Regions from separate parts of the Homo sapiens genome. Here all the other regions are linked to region 1. Evidence: fine-mapped expression QTL. A gene starts in region 1. Each other region holds a variant in brackets. All regions are shown on one strand. Distances are between the middles of the regions.

The links. PIP is the estimated chance that this variant, and not a neighbour inherited with it, causes the effect. A credible set is the group of variants that fine-mapping cannot tell apart.
Region 2: its variant is the best candidate, but not a certain one, in a credible set for the expression of MEOX2 in esophagus muscle (GTEx, PIP 0.82).
Region 3: its variant is the best candidate, but not a certain one, in a credible set for the expression of MEOX2 in nucleus accumbens (GTEx, PIP 0.54).

What each region holds. Positions count from the first base shown.
Region 1 is chr7:15,683,548-15,688,919 of GRCh38, forward strand. MEOX2 (mesenchyme homeobox 2) reads right to left here and starts at 3,136. Exons shown (of 3, transcript NM_005924.5): 1 at 2,339-3,136. The coding sequence starts at 2,855. LINC02587 (long intergenic non-protein coding RNA 2587) reads left to right here and starts at 4,831. Exons shown (of 2, transcript NR_110094.1): 1 at 4,831-4,905. RefSeq lists an enhancer at 1,500-2,332.
Region 2 is chr7:15,942,801-15,948,172 of GRCh38, forward strand. No RefSeq gene overlaps it. Among named protein-coding and RNA genes, the nearest start is that of LINC02587, 260 kb to the left of the region's middle. The variant CA/C (reference allele first, on the strand shown) is at 3,178.
Region 3 is chr7:15,710,430-15,715,801 of GRCh38, forward strand. It overlaps LOC101927558 (a long non-coding RNA gene), which reads left to right. Exons shown (of 4, transcript XR_927057.3): 2 at 5,096-5,146. Among named protein-coding and RNA genes, the nearest start is that of LINC02587, 25 kb to the left of the region's middle. The variant G/T (reference allele first, on the strand shown) is at 2,649.

The DNA.
Region 1 (5,372 bases):
TCAAGATGTCTATGAAATAAAATATCTTTGAAGATAATTTATGGAACACCTAATGCAATTGTTACACGAGAAAGATATCTTTAATTTAAATCTATCTCAATATCTGACAAATATACCTTCAGCTGAAATTGGCAAATAAAATTTTATTTTCAATAAGTGTACATAGATTTAAACAGAAACTATTGTGATTTTCCTTTTAGTCAATATTTCTTCAACATATCAAAGGAAAGAAAAGCTCATTCTAAATCCCCAGTATTTTTATCCTTGGTGATGACTAATTGTACTTTCCACTGAAGTTTTAATCTGTTAATAATTTATGTAGCTGACACAAACACTTATATTTGCTTGTTTTTCCAGTACCCTCATTATCAGCTTCAAAATGTAGAAATGAATTTAATTTTGTTAAATGGTTATTTCCCACTAAGTTGGGGGGGAGAGATAAATTAGTTTTGTTAAATTATTCCATTTTTTAAAAAAATTATTAAAATAAATTAAGGGAATCAGTTATTGAATTCCGTTTTCTCAGTTTTCCCCAAACAAAATAACATGTGCTTGTATGAAAATTGTTTGCCCTGAGAAACTTAAGGGCAATGGCTCAGTTCAGGAAGCATGAAGAACAATCTATCATGTAGGTTTCTCATTGCAAGAAATAAAATGAACCGTAAGAGCTTATGGGAATTGCAAGAGTACGCTCATCAACCCGAACTGGGATCTGCTTCCAAAGTTACACTGATATCAAATGTTCAGTTTATGAAATTGTCACTGCATTCTAAAATCGACTGTTTTTCTAATAAAAATTGAAACCTTTTTGCTATGATTAACCTTTCAACTCACTATCTAAAGAGAGTTTCACTTATAGTTAGGAAAATACATTAAATATCAGTGACACTACTGGTAATTTTCTTATAAAAACTAATTTGTGATGGAACATTAAAAGTTCACCCCCTGACCTTGGAAAATAAAAGTTAGCTTTTGAGACCGTGAGAGAAGAATCCATCCTATAGTAACGCTGAAGAACAATTGATATTGCTGTGAATGGTGAAGGAATATTAAATATGCGGCCAATCATTTTCATTTATGTGGCATCTTACCTAAAGCTTTACACACGATCAACATTTTTCCAATCCTTCAAACCAACATATGGGATTACCTTCTAGGACTATTATTAACCCAATTCCACAGAGGAAGAAAAATATGCAAATATTATATTAAACAAATGACACCTTCCAAAAGTATTTAATCCAGGTTGCACTATACCCACGAAAGAAAACTCACAAGTCTCTTAATTTTAAAGTATCTTTTAACAATTTTATAAAAATACAGGTAGGTAAGAGCTTTGAAAACTTGTCTGGAAACTTTGAGTTTCTCTGGATTGCTACAATTTATTCGGCACGTTGTGCCTTCAAGCACCAGAGGTCAGGAAGGTTCCCCTTTTGCATGGCTGCTCAAATTATCCCCACTGAAATCAGCGCCTCCTGCGCGCACCCTTGCATACCCCTTTAGACACGTATCTAACTAACAGTACCCGAGTTGCTGTTGCTTCGCAGTATTTGTCTCTACTAATACCCACTTGGTAGAGGGATTTATTTTCCACTTTTGAAACTTAGGTTCTGTAATTAGCTTACACCACATGGACATGTACTATTAAGGTTCGTCTTTCTTCCAGTGTGAGCATCTATTTATTTACAATTCTCTGACACATTCCTTAAAATCTGAATTCCTAGATAATGTCTTCTTCCCCAATAAAGGGAAAATTTTACCATTTGAAATAGGGTGCTATTTAAAGAACGCTGAAATAAGAATGTTAAAAAAAAAAAACTGAAACTTTTTTTTCTCATGCGCTCTGCCAAGTTCCATTGCAAGTTCCAAACATTGTGCAATAATTTGGAAATCCAGTTAACGATGGGAAAAATCGAGCCACTCAGAGTCGGCAACTTGCAAGAGAAAAGTCAAGAAGCGGCACCCGCACGCACGCCTGCCCAACGGACGCTGCATCCCTGGGCGCACGCCCCTCCCTCCCCAGCGCTGGGATGGAAGGTCACGCTTCACAATCGATTTCACAGCCACTTGTCCTTTTTTATCAACCTTCTGGTAAACTAGTTTAGGACTTTGGAGGGCTTAGAGCTGCTGGCTGTATACGCATTGCTCTCGAATAAACACGTGTCCCCAAATATCAGGACCAAAGCTTCACCGCCGAATTTGGCCGCAGGAAGCCACAGAGGGCAACACATTCCCATCTTCCCTGCTGCCACCCTCCAGTGCGAGAATCTCCCCTAGTATCTCTCCGCCCCTTTTCCAGCCCGGCGCGCACTCTCGAGGGTGCCTGGCGCGCCCTTACCTGAGCTGTCGCTTTTCCTCTTGCCGCCGCTTCGCTTCTCCGCCTCCGCAGGTGACAGTGCCTGGCGGCCGTAGTCCCCCGGCGCGCACGCGGCCCCAGTCGGGGTGCTGGAGCCCAAGCTGGAAGAGTTGGAGCACAGGACGGGCGGGCTGCTCCCCAACTCTGGGGGCCCTCCAGAGTCGGGCTGGAGGCAGAGGCTGTGCCGAGCCGCACTCGGTGGGGAAGACATCTGCGGGAGGTGCCAGTTGGTTTGCAGAGCCTGGTGCTGCTGCTGCTGATGGTGGTGATGGTGGTGGTGGTGGTGGTGGTGGTGGTGCCCCCTGTGATGCTGGCTGGCAAACATGCCCTCTTCGTTGGGGTATCCCGCGATTATGCAAGATGAGGAAGAAGTAGAGAGCTCGGGGTAAGACATATGGTCAGATCTTCCATGGAGGGCGAGAGAGGATTGGGAGAACGGGTGCAAGCCTTGCGCCGTGGCGTGAGGGCTGCGCAGGCAGCCAAAGAGCGGGTGTTCCATAGCATGCAAGTTTCGGGTTCCAGGCAGAAGACTTCACGGCGGTTCCAAAGGCCACCACCCTCTGTCACTTTTTCACTGGAAACCGTGTGATTTTTTTTTTAACCTCCCAAAGCAATAGCGGTGCACTTCTGCAGAGCTCGGATAATCCCGGTCCTGAGCCCCAGCGGCCAGTCTCCTTTACATATGAACAGTCGGACCTGGAAGAGCTTCCCTGAGCTACTCAGATGTCAAGAGTGGGAGAGGTTGAAGCCAAAAGAAGGTGGTCCCAGAGAACTGCTTTCAGGGGGAAATGGCTCTGAGAAGTTATAAATAGAGTGTAACGTGAGCTGGGGGCTGGCTTAGGAGCCCAGAGTTGACCACATGCAAACTCCCTCCAAAACTCCCGCTCAGCCTGCGCCACGCGCTCCCAGTTCCACTTCCTATCTCCTGCTGGACGGACGTAGAGCGTCCACGCCCGCCCAGCACTGCCGGCTGCCAGGACTACAAGCGGCACGCCAACGTCTAAGTCCCGCCCGGGAGGGCAGCAGCTCTGCCCTCCAGACTCTGGAGGCCTGGGCGCGGCGCACACCACCCCCAACCTAGCACCCTGATTCCTACCTACTCACTTTCCTCTCGGGGAAACGTGACTTGTCAGTGTCATTTGGGAACTGTCACCTGCAGAAAAGCTAGGGATACGCCTATCCTTTCAGGAACACGAAAGAAGTAATAGGGTTAAAGGAAAAGACCAGAGCTAGTTTGGCGCACCCTCGAAGTTTTTCAAACTTTGCATCTTCCCGTGCCCCGGGCGCCGCAGCGCGCCTAGGTTTTCGCAGCTGGTTTCTGTCGGTGGGTTGTTAATAGGCTGGGACGCCAGATCTGAGGTTGCGGGGATGAGCACCATGGCCTGGAAAAGGCGGTTCTCAGTGCAGAAAGAAGACGGACCTGGTTGGGTGGGTGGGAGGAAGGCGTGAGTCTGAAAGGGTTGCAGATGCCTGCTCCCTGGCATCCTCACGTGCGATGCCAGGTGGAGGCTCCCTTCCCCCTCTTTCCCGGTCCCGCTCAATTTCCTAGCCACTTGTCCACCAAGAAGAACTTTTCCTGGGTCAAGAATATTTCCAAGCGATTGTGTCCCGGTCATATGAGATGTGTAGATTGCACGCGCATTTCTAGCCTTTCCCCTCAGGAGCTAGCCCAGATCTCCTCGGTTTCCTCCAGAAATCCACTCTCTTCTGCTCAAAAATAAATCCGCTAATGCATTCCTTACCACCAGGGTTCCATTTACTGAGAATTCTTACATTTCGATAGCTCCCAAAATTCACTCACCGTGGGCACTTGGTTACAATTTTGCACCCCTGAAAATAAAATAGAAAACTCGCCTCTAGTAAGCATGCGAGAGCGAGGGCAGGGCTTTGAAGCTGCTACTTGCTTGGCGGGCGACAGGGTCCGCTGGGGGCAGAGTCGTTTACACACAAGTGAGTGGCGCTGTAATGAGCAGGAGGAACAGTCATGTCCCATCTGCGACCTGTCGCATCAGGAGAATATCTGTAGTCACCTATTCTGCCCGGGGCCCCAAATGCGCCACCAGCAGTGTCGCCCCGTTTTTTCATTGTCTCAGGTGTCCAGAGGATGATGACCAGGTCTTTGAAGTTGTTAGTGGGATTAATGGGTACAGCAAACTGGGCTAGACATCTGGTTTGAATTAGGAAAAAGCATTGATTAATCTTTGAGAGGTGTCCCCAAAGCAGAACCTTTCCCCTCCTCTTCCAGTCCCCTTGCTTAAGCCTCACTATCTTCTTTTCTTTTAAGTCACACTGCAGAATAGTGGCTTCGCAATAACATCCGTGTGAAAGATCGAATTGTTTTCTATTGCTCAGAGGTGGGGTGGAGTGGGGGTTGATCAGGAATTCTGAGATTTGTAAGCGCTGCTTTCTTTAACGGAAATTGAGCTCTATTTTGAGGGAAATTAGTTTTGCAGACTTCGTTTAAAAAAAAAAAAAAACTAAATCTTTTGTTCACCAGCTGCTCAGCTTTTCAGTCTGGGTCTGAGCTGAAACCTGCTGCAAGTCTGACGGTAAGACTTTCTTTGCCGATATTTTGGGAATCTAATATTGTTTTAGACTTCGAAAAGGGGTGTTGTTCAGGTTGCACGTTTCTAGGGGCTTTAAGCACTCGCAGGATGGCGTCCAGGACTTAGATCTTGAGAATATCTCTTCCTGCCACTCCCCACGCCCTTGGCTCTTTAAGAATAAAAAGAGGTGGGGGAGTTATAGTCCTCCAATATCGTCGGAATATTTTTTTGTATTTTCATTGTGTTTATGGTTTCAATATGTGCTCTGATATTAAAAGTTAAAGTACAAAGAGCAACACTAAACTTCCCCAACTCATGTAGCTTCTCTATGGATTCTGGGTGAAAGCATTAAAGGCTTTATTTAAAGTGAGATTTAGGCAACCACCTCAATAAACCTAACCAGAAATATTTACATAATATAATGCTGTCAACTAAAAGCATTGTGGAAAATGTCAGACAAGACAGACTAA
Region 2 (5,372 bases), 260 kb after region 1:
CACCGCACCACACCTATTCCAAAATTGACCACATAGTTGGAAGTAAAGCTCTCCTCAGCAAATGTAAAAGAACAGAAATTATAACAAACTATCTCTCAGACCACAGTGCAATCAAACTAGAACTCAGGATTAAGAATCTCACTCAAAACTGCTCAACTATATGGAAACTGAACAACCTGCTCCTGAATGACTACTGGGTACATAACGAAATGAAGGCAGAAATAAAGATGTTCTTTGAAATCAACGAGAACAAAGACACAACATACCAGAATCTCTGGGATGCATTCAAAGCAGTGTGTAGAGGGAAATTTATAGCACTAAATGCCCACAAGAGAAAGCAGGAAAGATCCAAAATTGACACCCTAACATCACAATTAAAAGAACTAGAAAAGCAAGAGCAAACACATTCAAAAGCTAGCAGAAGGCAAGAAATAACTAAAATCAGAGCAGAACTGAAGGAAATAGAGACACAAAAAAACCCTTCAAAAAATTAATGAATCCAGGAGCTGGTTTTTTGAAAGGATCAACAAAATTGATAGACCACTAGCAAGACTAATAAAGAAAAAAAGAGAGAAGACTCTAACAGACGCAATAAAAAATGATAAAGGGGATATCACCACCCATCCCACAGAAATACAAACTATCAGAGAATACTACAAACACCTCTACGCAAATAAACTAGAAAATCTAGAAGAAATGGATAAATTCCTCGACACATACACTCTCCCAAGACTAAAACCAGGAAGAAGTTGAATCTCTGAATAGACCAATAACAGGAGCTGAAATTGTGGCAATAATCAATAGCTTACCAACCAAAAAGAGTCCAGGACCAGATGGATTCACAGCTGAATTCTACCAGAGGTACAAGGAGGAACTGGTACCATTCCTTCTGAAACTATTCCAATCAATAGAAAAAGAGGGAATCCTCCCTAACTCATTTTATGAGGCCAGCATCATTCTGATACCAAAGCCAGGCAGAGACACAACAAAAAAACAGAATTTTAGACCAATATCCTTGATGAACATTGATGCAAAAATCCTCAATAAAATACTGGCAAAATGAATCCAGCAGCACATCAAAAAGCTTGTCCACCATGATCAAGTGGGCTTCATCCCTGGGATGCAAGGCTGGTTCAATATACGCTAATCAATAAATGTAAACCAGCATATAAACAGAGCCAAAGACAAAAACCACATGATTATCTCAATAGATGCAGAAAAAGCCTTTGACAAAATTCAACAACCCTTCATGCTAAAAACTCTCAATAAATTAGGTATTGATGGGACGTATTTCAAAATAATAAGAGCTATCTATGACAAACCCGCAGCCAATATCATACTGAATGGGCAAAAACTGGAAGCATTCCCTTTGAAAACTGGCACAAGACAGGGATGCCCTCTCTCACCACTCCTATTCAACATAGTGTTGGAAGTTCTGGCCAGGGCAATTAGGCAGGAGAAGGAAATAAAGGGTATTCAATTAGGAAAAGAGGAAGTCAAATTGTCCCTGTTTGCAGATGACATGATTGTATATTTAGAAAACCCCATTGTCTCAGCCCAAAATCTCCTTAAGCTGATAAGCAACTTCAGCAAAGTCTCAGGATACAAAATCAATGTACAAAAATCACAAGCATTCTTATACACCAACAACAGACAAACAGAGAGCCAAATCATGAGTGAACTCCCATTCACAATTGCTTCAAAGAGAATAAAATACCTAGGAATCCAACTTACACGGGATGTGAAGGACCTCTTCAAGGAGAACTACAAACCACTGCTCAAGGAAATAAAAGAGGATACAAACAAATGGAAGAACATTCCATGCTCATGGGTAGGAAGAATCAATATTGTGAAAATGGCCATACTGCCCAAGGTAATTTACAGATTCAATGCCATCCCCATCAAGCTACCAATGCCTTTCTTCACAGAATTGGAAAAAACTACTTTAAAGTTCATATGGAACCAAAAAAGAGCCCTCATCGCCAAGTCAATCCTAAGCCAAAAGAACAAAGCTGGAGGCATCACACTACCTGACTTCAAACTATACTACAAGTCTACAGTAACCAAAACAGCACGGTACTGGTACCAAAACAGAGATATAGATCAATGGAACAGAACAGAGCCCTCAGAAATAACGCCACATATCTACAACTATCTGATCTTTGACAAACCTGAGAAAAACAAGCAATGGGGAAAGGATTCCCTATTTAATAAATGGTGCTGGGAAAACTGGCTAGCCATATGTAGAAAGCTGAAACTGGATCCCTTCCTTACACCTTATACAAAAATCAATTCAAGATGGATTAAAGACTTAAACGTTAGACCTAAAACCATAAAAACCCTAGAAGAAAACCTAGGCATTACCATTCAGGACATAGACATGGGCAAGGACTTCATGTCTAAAACACCAAAAGCAATGGCAACAAAAGACAAAATTGACAAATGGGATCTAATTAAACTAAAGAGCTTCTGCACAGCAAAAGAAACTACCATCAGAGTGAAGAGGCAACCTACAAAATGGGAGAAAATTTTTGCAACCTACTTATCTGACAAAGGGCTAATATCCAGAATCTACAATGAACTCAAACAAATTTACAAGAAAAAAACAAACAACCCCATCAAAAAGTGGGCGAAGGACATGAACAGACACTTCTCTAAAGAAGACATTTATGCAGCCAAAACACACATGAAAAAATGCTCATCATCACTGGCCATCAGAGAGATGCAAATCAAAACCACAATGAGATACCATCTCACACCAGTTAGAATGGCAATCATTAAAAAGTCAGGAAACAACAGGTGCTGGAGAGGATGTGGAGAAATAGGAACACTTTTACACTGTTGGTGGGACTGTAAACTAGTTCAACCATGGTGGAAGTCAGTGTGGCGATTCCTCAGGGATATAGAACTGGAAATACCATTTGACCCAGCCATCCCATTACTGGATATATACCCAAAGGACTATAAATCATGCTGCTATAAAGACACATGCACACGTATGTTTATTGCGGCATTATTCACAATAGCAAAGACTTGGAACCAACCCAAATGTCCAACAATGATAGAGTGGATTAAGAAAATGTGGCACATATACACCATGGAATACTATGCAGCCATAAAAAATGATGAGTTCATGTCCTTTGTAGGGACATGGATGAAATTGGAAAACATCATTCT[CA/C]GTAAACTATCGCAAGAACAAAAAACCAAACACCGCATATTCTCACTCATAGGTGGGAATTGAACAATGAGATCACACGGACACAGGAAGGGGAATATCACACTCTGGGGACTGTTGTGGGGTGGGGGGAGGGGGGAGGGATAGCATTGGGAGATATACCTAATGCTAGATGACGAGTTAGTGGGTGCAGTGCACCAGCATGGCACATGTATACATATGTAACTAACCTGCACAATGCGCACATGTACCCTAAAACTTAAAGTTTAATTAAAAAAAATAATAAATAAAAAAAATTAGCTGGATGTGGTGGCATGCGCCTGTAATCCCAGCTACTCAAGAGGCTGAGGCAGGAGAAACGCTTGAACCCGGGAGGCGCGGAGGTTGCAGACAGCCAAGATCGCACCACTGCATTCCAGCCTGGGCAGCAATAGCAAAACTCCGTGAAAGAAGGAAAGAAAGAAAGAGAGAAGAGGGTGGTGGGGAGGGGCGGAGAGAGAGAAAGAGAAAGAAAAAGTTACATTATTAATTAACATGTTTTGAATGGCTTCATCCAGAACATAATAGGAAGACACGTGTACATTTCTCAGAAACAATTGTTTTCTTGAAATCTCAGTCACAGCATACCCTCATTTTTGCCTAAAATCATCAGCTTTTTACTAAATGATTTTAGTTGATGTTTCCATAGAGATCAAAAAGTGACCATGTGAGAATATATACGTGAAGTTCCTTCTAAACTGCATACCATTAAAATGACTCCTATTTCTATGGTTTTTTTTTTTTTTTTTAACTCACACCTCTACTCATCTATCTTATTTTTTATATTATGGTCCTTCAAACTATGACCCAAATGTCCCCTGCTAGTTCTATTTCCTGAGACTTCCAAATATAAAACCCTCTCACTCATTACATAGAATAGGGATCATAGTTTCTTGTCATGAGAAGGTGTGCTATGAGATTCAATATATTGCCACTAGAACAGCATATTTCTAAACCCTGATGATGGTCAGAGATCAAGATGGCATACAATAGTCATGCATATTATAGTAAAACACAAAAGATAACTATCAGAATTTAAATGTATATAAAAATAATGGTTTTGCCTAAAATAGATTTGGATTAAAAAAATAGTAATGACTGATGTCTTTGAACGTACATGAACACACAGTTGTTAGTGGTGTATATGAGAATTATCAAGTCCTCTATCTTTTTAATCTAATATTTCTCCAGTCTATTTTACATGTGCAATTTTAAAATATCTTTATGCTTTAAAATATAATCTTAAAGCAAATCTTATAAATGCAATTCATGAAAACTTACAAAAGTAACGAGGAAATATTTTCACCAAGTTGGAAACTACATTTTATTAATAATTTAAAAAGTTAGCAGTTGGTAATTTTCTCAAAATTAATATTGAATTATTTTACAGTGTTTGAAATTATTTTTCTCTCTTATTTCTGATTTCTCATGTCATCTATATAGAATATGGAATCATGTTTAAAGATTTTAAAACATTTAAAAAACATACATACATTACATAAATATATGTGTAATATGTACACATATGTATATGTGTGTATTCACACACACACACTTTGGAGAATATTTATCTGTGTATTTCCGTTTTACCTTGAGTTTTGATTCAAAACCTATGTTTTTCAATAAGATTATAAGTTTCATGAGATTGAAATCTAATTCAATACTGTACATCTTTAGCATGTATTATCATTCCTTAAGGATAATGCTCATTTTTTTTGTAGCTAGCTTTTTGTAGCTTCTATAAATTGTCATTCCAGATGGCACTCCATTGTTTCAAACTCGATGCCACTCACCTTCTTTTAGGAAAAGATTTGTATTTAATAGGAAGCCTGGGCAGTGTTTTTCTACAAGAAGAGAGGGTGTAGCTTGAGGAACGATATTAGGTTTTGCAATTGAATTGTTCTTCTATGAATTACTCCTAAAAACTGATGTAAGCAAATAACTCTTCCAAGTCTCCAAGAACTGCTTTACCACAGGAAATATCTCAACAATTTGCTGAAAATATTTGCATCTGTTCACCCAGAAAGTGAAAATCAAAAGTGATTATTATCTTTTTCTCCTTAAAGAAACCATCATAGGTGCCCTGTGTCATCCAACACACACCCTAGCTATGGGTGTGTGCTGTGTTGAGAAATGCTAATAATACACTCTTGAAAAG
Region 3 (5,372 bases), 27 kb after region 1:
CCTGGATGTGAGATTTATTTGCTTTTAACTTCTCAGCTGGTTCTAATGGGAAGTCAAGATTTAGAACCCTGCTCTCGATCACTTGCCATATCCAATTATTAGGAAACATTTCTCTTTCTCCTCTACTAGGGTTTTAGTTTTTGAGGATATGACTATGTTTTTTTCCTTGGTAGCCTAAGTACCTAAAAGAACGTCTGATATAATGTTGGTGCTCAAAAGTTTGTTGATTGAAAATAAACACTGAGTTTCAAAAGACAGTTTTTTAAAATTCAATTTAACAGTTGTAAGCTAAATGTCTTCTGTGTACTAAACTCTATATAAGCTGTTGGTATACATGGTGGATAATGTACAGTCAGGTTTTAGTACAATTAATTTTCAGTTAGGTGCTAACAAGTTGGCAATTATGATCACAGTGTTAGTAGCATCAGGCCACTACATCTTAAATTACTCTTCCAGAACTGCGACCTTCAATCTAATACAGCAAGTCATTATTTCCTTAAATAATATTCCATTATCTTAAGTAATAGGTTGCATAATTAAAAAAAAATTAGGTCTTACAAGTATGTACTTCTGAGTATGTAAAGTCTAACTACAAATAAGTCCATCCTTTTTCTTTTATCCAAATATTTAATTTTTTTTTGTTTTTACCTAGGTTCCAAACAAAATCTAAAAGGTTTTGCATTGATTTAATATCCAGTGAAAGGCAGGTGTTCACTAAATGGAATGAGAAAAAATAAAAGCAGCCTAACTGCAGAAGTGTCTTTGAACCACAAATTTAAATTTTTAGTGGTTTTACAATCTTTTCAAGCTGTCAACGGAAAAACATGGCTTGACATTGAACACATACCAAGTCAGTAGCATAACTATTTTATAATGTCTGATTGGTCACTGAAAAAAACAGTTTAAAATTCAATCCATGTGATACAAATGCCACTTAGAAAAAGACCATTCATCCTGCAGTGCTGTAGGAAACCTGTGGTATAACAGTTCCCATTTCATCCAGCAGCAGAAGGGGTTTTAAAGAATTACAAATGGAATGGTTCCTAGAATCCTACATGTTGGGTATTATTAATATAAATTTTATCATCACAAAATTCACTATTAGAAGAAAAAAACATAATATTATTTTTTCACTCTCATGCATTAAAAAACTTCATTTTAAATGACGATTTTTAGGTTTATTTATGGGAATCCTTTGGGAATGTCCATTCCTAATTTCATTAGGTCATTCATTCATTAACTGAAATATGTTGAACACTTGCTATATTGTTTCTCATAGTGGAAAGGGTTGGCCTAGTCATCTGTCCAACTGGCATTTATATTAGTCATGAATTTTGTATTCTATTTGGAAAGTCTGTGTGTAGCTATTAATGGTTAGAGATTGCAGAATTACAGATTACCTGAAACAGAACTGGTTGTTTCAAAGCGTTTATAAGCCATATAACAAAACCTAAGTAATCAAAATAAAGCAAATGGTGAATTTTTTTAGATTAGAAACTATTCTGGAAAATTATGAAAAGCGAAGTGGACTTCATCCACATTTGGAAATCAGATTTGTCGCACATATCTCAGTATCAGACAAGTTTTGAGGACTGTAAATTTTGAATTTCTAAACTTCTGCTAACTTCAGCTAAATTTGAATTGTCTAATTTTGAGAAATCCAAACTCAGTGATTTTCTCGTATGCCTATTTGTCGATCTTACTTGTAGACTTTTCATTATTAATTAGCAGTTTCAAAGGGTAGAGACAAGGGGGAAAAAGCATGGACAAGAAAAGACAGCAGGGACAAGAAAAAAAGCATTACACAAATTAACCCATTTATGCCTGAGGTTGCAGTTTCTTGAATTTTTGCAATCAGGCTTTGGCGATGATCTTGAGCAGTAAGATATAAATAACTCCCACATGCTTAGCATTCCAATAATGGAACAATAGGCATAAATTGGACAGAATTTGCCCAATCTTGGTTATCACCTCTAAAAAATGATTTAATAGAAAATAAGTTTGAAATTAGTGTGAAAGCTTCAGATAATATGTGAATTGCAAGATCTGCTTTATTCCTTTCCCCCAATCATTGCTAAAAGTTAAGAATTAGTCCTACATGTAATGGTATGAAATTCATTCATGTTCTCATCTGTAAAGTAAAAGTTAAGCATTATAATTGACTTTAATAGTTATTATGGTGACGACTAATAAAAATTCCTGCAAGTATTGACAAGCCTTCAAGGATATAGCAGTTACGAGTTGCTAGCTAAAAAGTACTTTGAGACCTGGGCAGGAAGGTGCTTTATGGCTACTTTATTTTTTTAATGTAATTTGATTTACTTCATTCCTTAAGAGAAAACATTTTATTAAGGCTTTTCGTTCGTGTGTTTTTTAGTTGTTTTTTTGTTTTTGCAATAGACTTTATCTTTTAGAGCAATTTTAAGTTCCCAACAAATTTGATGAGAAAGTATAGAAAATTCCTGTATTCTCCTTCCCCACACCTCCAGATACAGCCTCCTCCACTACTAAACATCCAGCATGAGAGTGGTACGTTTGTTACACAATAAACCTACATTGATACAGTATTTTCACCAAAGTCTTACTTTACATTTGGATTCACTCTCCGTGTTTTATATTCTAAAGGTTTAGATAAATGTATAATGACA[G/T]GTATCCATCATACAGAATAGTTTCACTGCCCTAGCATACCTCTGTGTTCTGCTTATTCATCCCTTATTTTATCCAAATCCCAGACAATCACTGATCTTTTTACTGGCCCCATAGTTTTGCTTTTTACAGAATGTTATATTGTTGGAATTATGCAGTATGTAGCCTTGAAAAATTGGCTTATTCCACTTAGTAATATGCATTTAAGTTTCCTCCATATCTTTTCATGACTCAATAGCTCATTTCTTTTCAGGGCTAAATAATATTCCATTGTCTGGCTGTACCACAGTTTATTTATCTGTTCATGTACTCAAGGATACTGGTTTGCTTTCAAGCTTTGGCAATTATGAATAAAGCTTCTATAAACATTTGTGGTTTTTAGCGTCTTCAGGTAGATATCAAAGAGTGTGATAGCTGGGTCATATGATAAGAGTAAGTTTAGCTTTGTCAGAAACTGCCAAACTATATTTCAAAGTTTCTGTAGTATTTTGCATTCCCACCAGCAAGGAATGAAAGTTTCTGTTGCTCCATATTCCCTCCATCATTCAATATTGTCAGTGTTTTGGATTTGGGCAATTTTAGTAGGTGTGTCAAAATATCTCATAGTTGTTTTAATTTGTACTTCCCCAGTGTCATGAGATGTAGTACATCTTTTAATATGCTATTTTAATTTGTGTATCTTCTTTGGTGAAGTGTTCAGAACTTTGGCTTATTTATTAAATTAGGTTGTTCATTTTCTTATTGTTGAGTTGTAAGAGTTATTTTTGTATTTTGGATAACAGTCCATCAGTTAAGTCTTGGACAAATGTTTTCTCCCAATCTGTGGTTATCTTTTCCTTCTCTTGACAGTATGTTTCACAGAATAGAAGTTTTTTATTTTAATAGAGCCCTGTTTATCAGTTCTTTCTTTCATAGATCTTGCCTTTGGTGTTGTATTTAAAAAGTTGTGATCATGCCCAAGATCATCTAGAAGTTCTATGTTATTTGCTAGTAGTTTTATAGTTTTGTATTTTAAATGTATGTCAGTGGTCAGTTTTGAGTTAACTTTTGTGAAGGGTATAAGGTCTCATTCTAAATTCTTTTTTTTTTTTTTTTTTTTTTGCATGTGACTGTCCAGACATAGTAAGGTGGAACTTTTTTGTTTTGGGTGTTTTTGTTCATTAGTTTATTTTAGAGAGATGAGGTCTTACTTTGTTGTGCAGGCTGGGCTCCACGGATTCCCAAATAGCTGGACTACAGGCACGAACTCTGGTGCCCAGCTTAGTACTAAAGTTTTAAGCTTTGTTGGTTTGGCCTGTCTTTTTGTGATTAAGAACTTTATAAATTATATTATATTTATTTTAGAAATGTAATGCAAATGCAAATTTAACCTTAGCTGTAACTACTAAGGCCAAATAATCAAGAATTATAGGTACCACAATGTCTATGAAAAGAAAACCCTATATAAAGGCATTTGATAAGCATACAAAACTTTCACAAAAGTCAAAAGAAAACACACTGAAAACATTTCCCTATCACATTTTAAATTATATCTTACAGGAATTTTATTGAATAGTAATTTTACTATTGACTCAGGTAGTATTAGTGATTAATTATTAGACAAATATATACCTAAACCTAAATTTAAAAATGATGTCTCTAAACAGAATGGCATAATTTCCATAATAAAATCCAAGTCATTGCTTTTATGAAATGATGAGAGAAAGGAGGAGAAGGAGGGAAGATAAACATCAAACATGTTCAGCCTCTAATTTTAACAATGTCTGTATCAGTCACTGTATACTCACTAAAAACACTACTGCCAAAATATTCTAAATCTAGGGGCTTACTTTAGAAGGTTACTATGTATCGTTTCAATGTAAAAAATACCCACTTATCTTAAAAGGAAGTGTGATGGGAAGAGCTTTTAAGAGTTATTGTTTGATACTGTGATAGGCAAATAATGTCCTTTTCACTGTGCATTCTTAGGATGGAAAGTCAAGATTTGTGGCATGTGTGTGCATGTGTGCATACATACGCTTTTTTAGGTATGCGTATGATGGGAGGTGAGTAGATAATTTTTCTCCAGGATTTTAAAAGCTGCGTATTTACATCTCTTCCTAAATCAAGCACAACAAGAAGGTGTTAAAAGTGGTGAAATATAATAATTAACGAGGGGAATGGAAATCAAATGACAATAAAATTACATCATACACAGACGAGAGTTAAGTACTTGTGTAGAGGAATTAAACCGATTAAGGTTTTCCTGCATATAGCTCCATACACACATTACTTCCATAACTTTAAATAATATATTTTGTTTTTTTGTCCTGGGTGTATTATTGAAATAAGTACATTCCCTCTTACTCGTTCTTCTCAACCCCAGATCCATTTTCCAATCCCCCACTGATCCCATGTCAGCATGCTCTGTTTTTGACTAGACAAATAATACACAGATTTATTTCTACAGGAAAAACCTCTGGTAAAGTCATGGAGTGCCTACTTGAACGATATTCAAAAGGTAACTGCATGCTTTTGCTGGCCAGAAATAACTCACAGCAAATGAATTCACAGAGCAGTCAATGGAATTCTGTAACCCTCTTAGGGGAGCCATTGTACTATAAGAGAAACTTGAAGCAGTGAAGCAGCCTTTATATCTATATATATCTGTATATAGCTATATACACATAATACAGTGTATGTGTGTGTTCATATACATACACACATACATGCATACATATGTATGT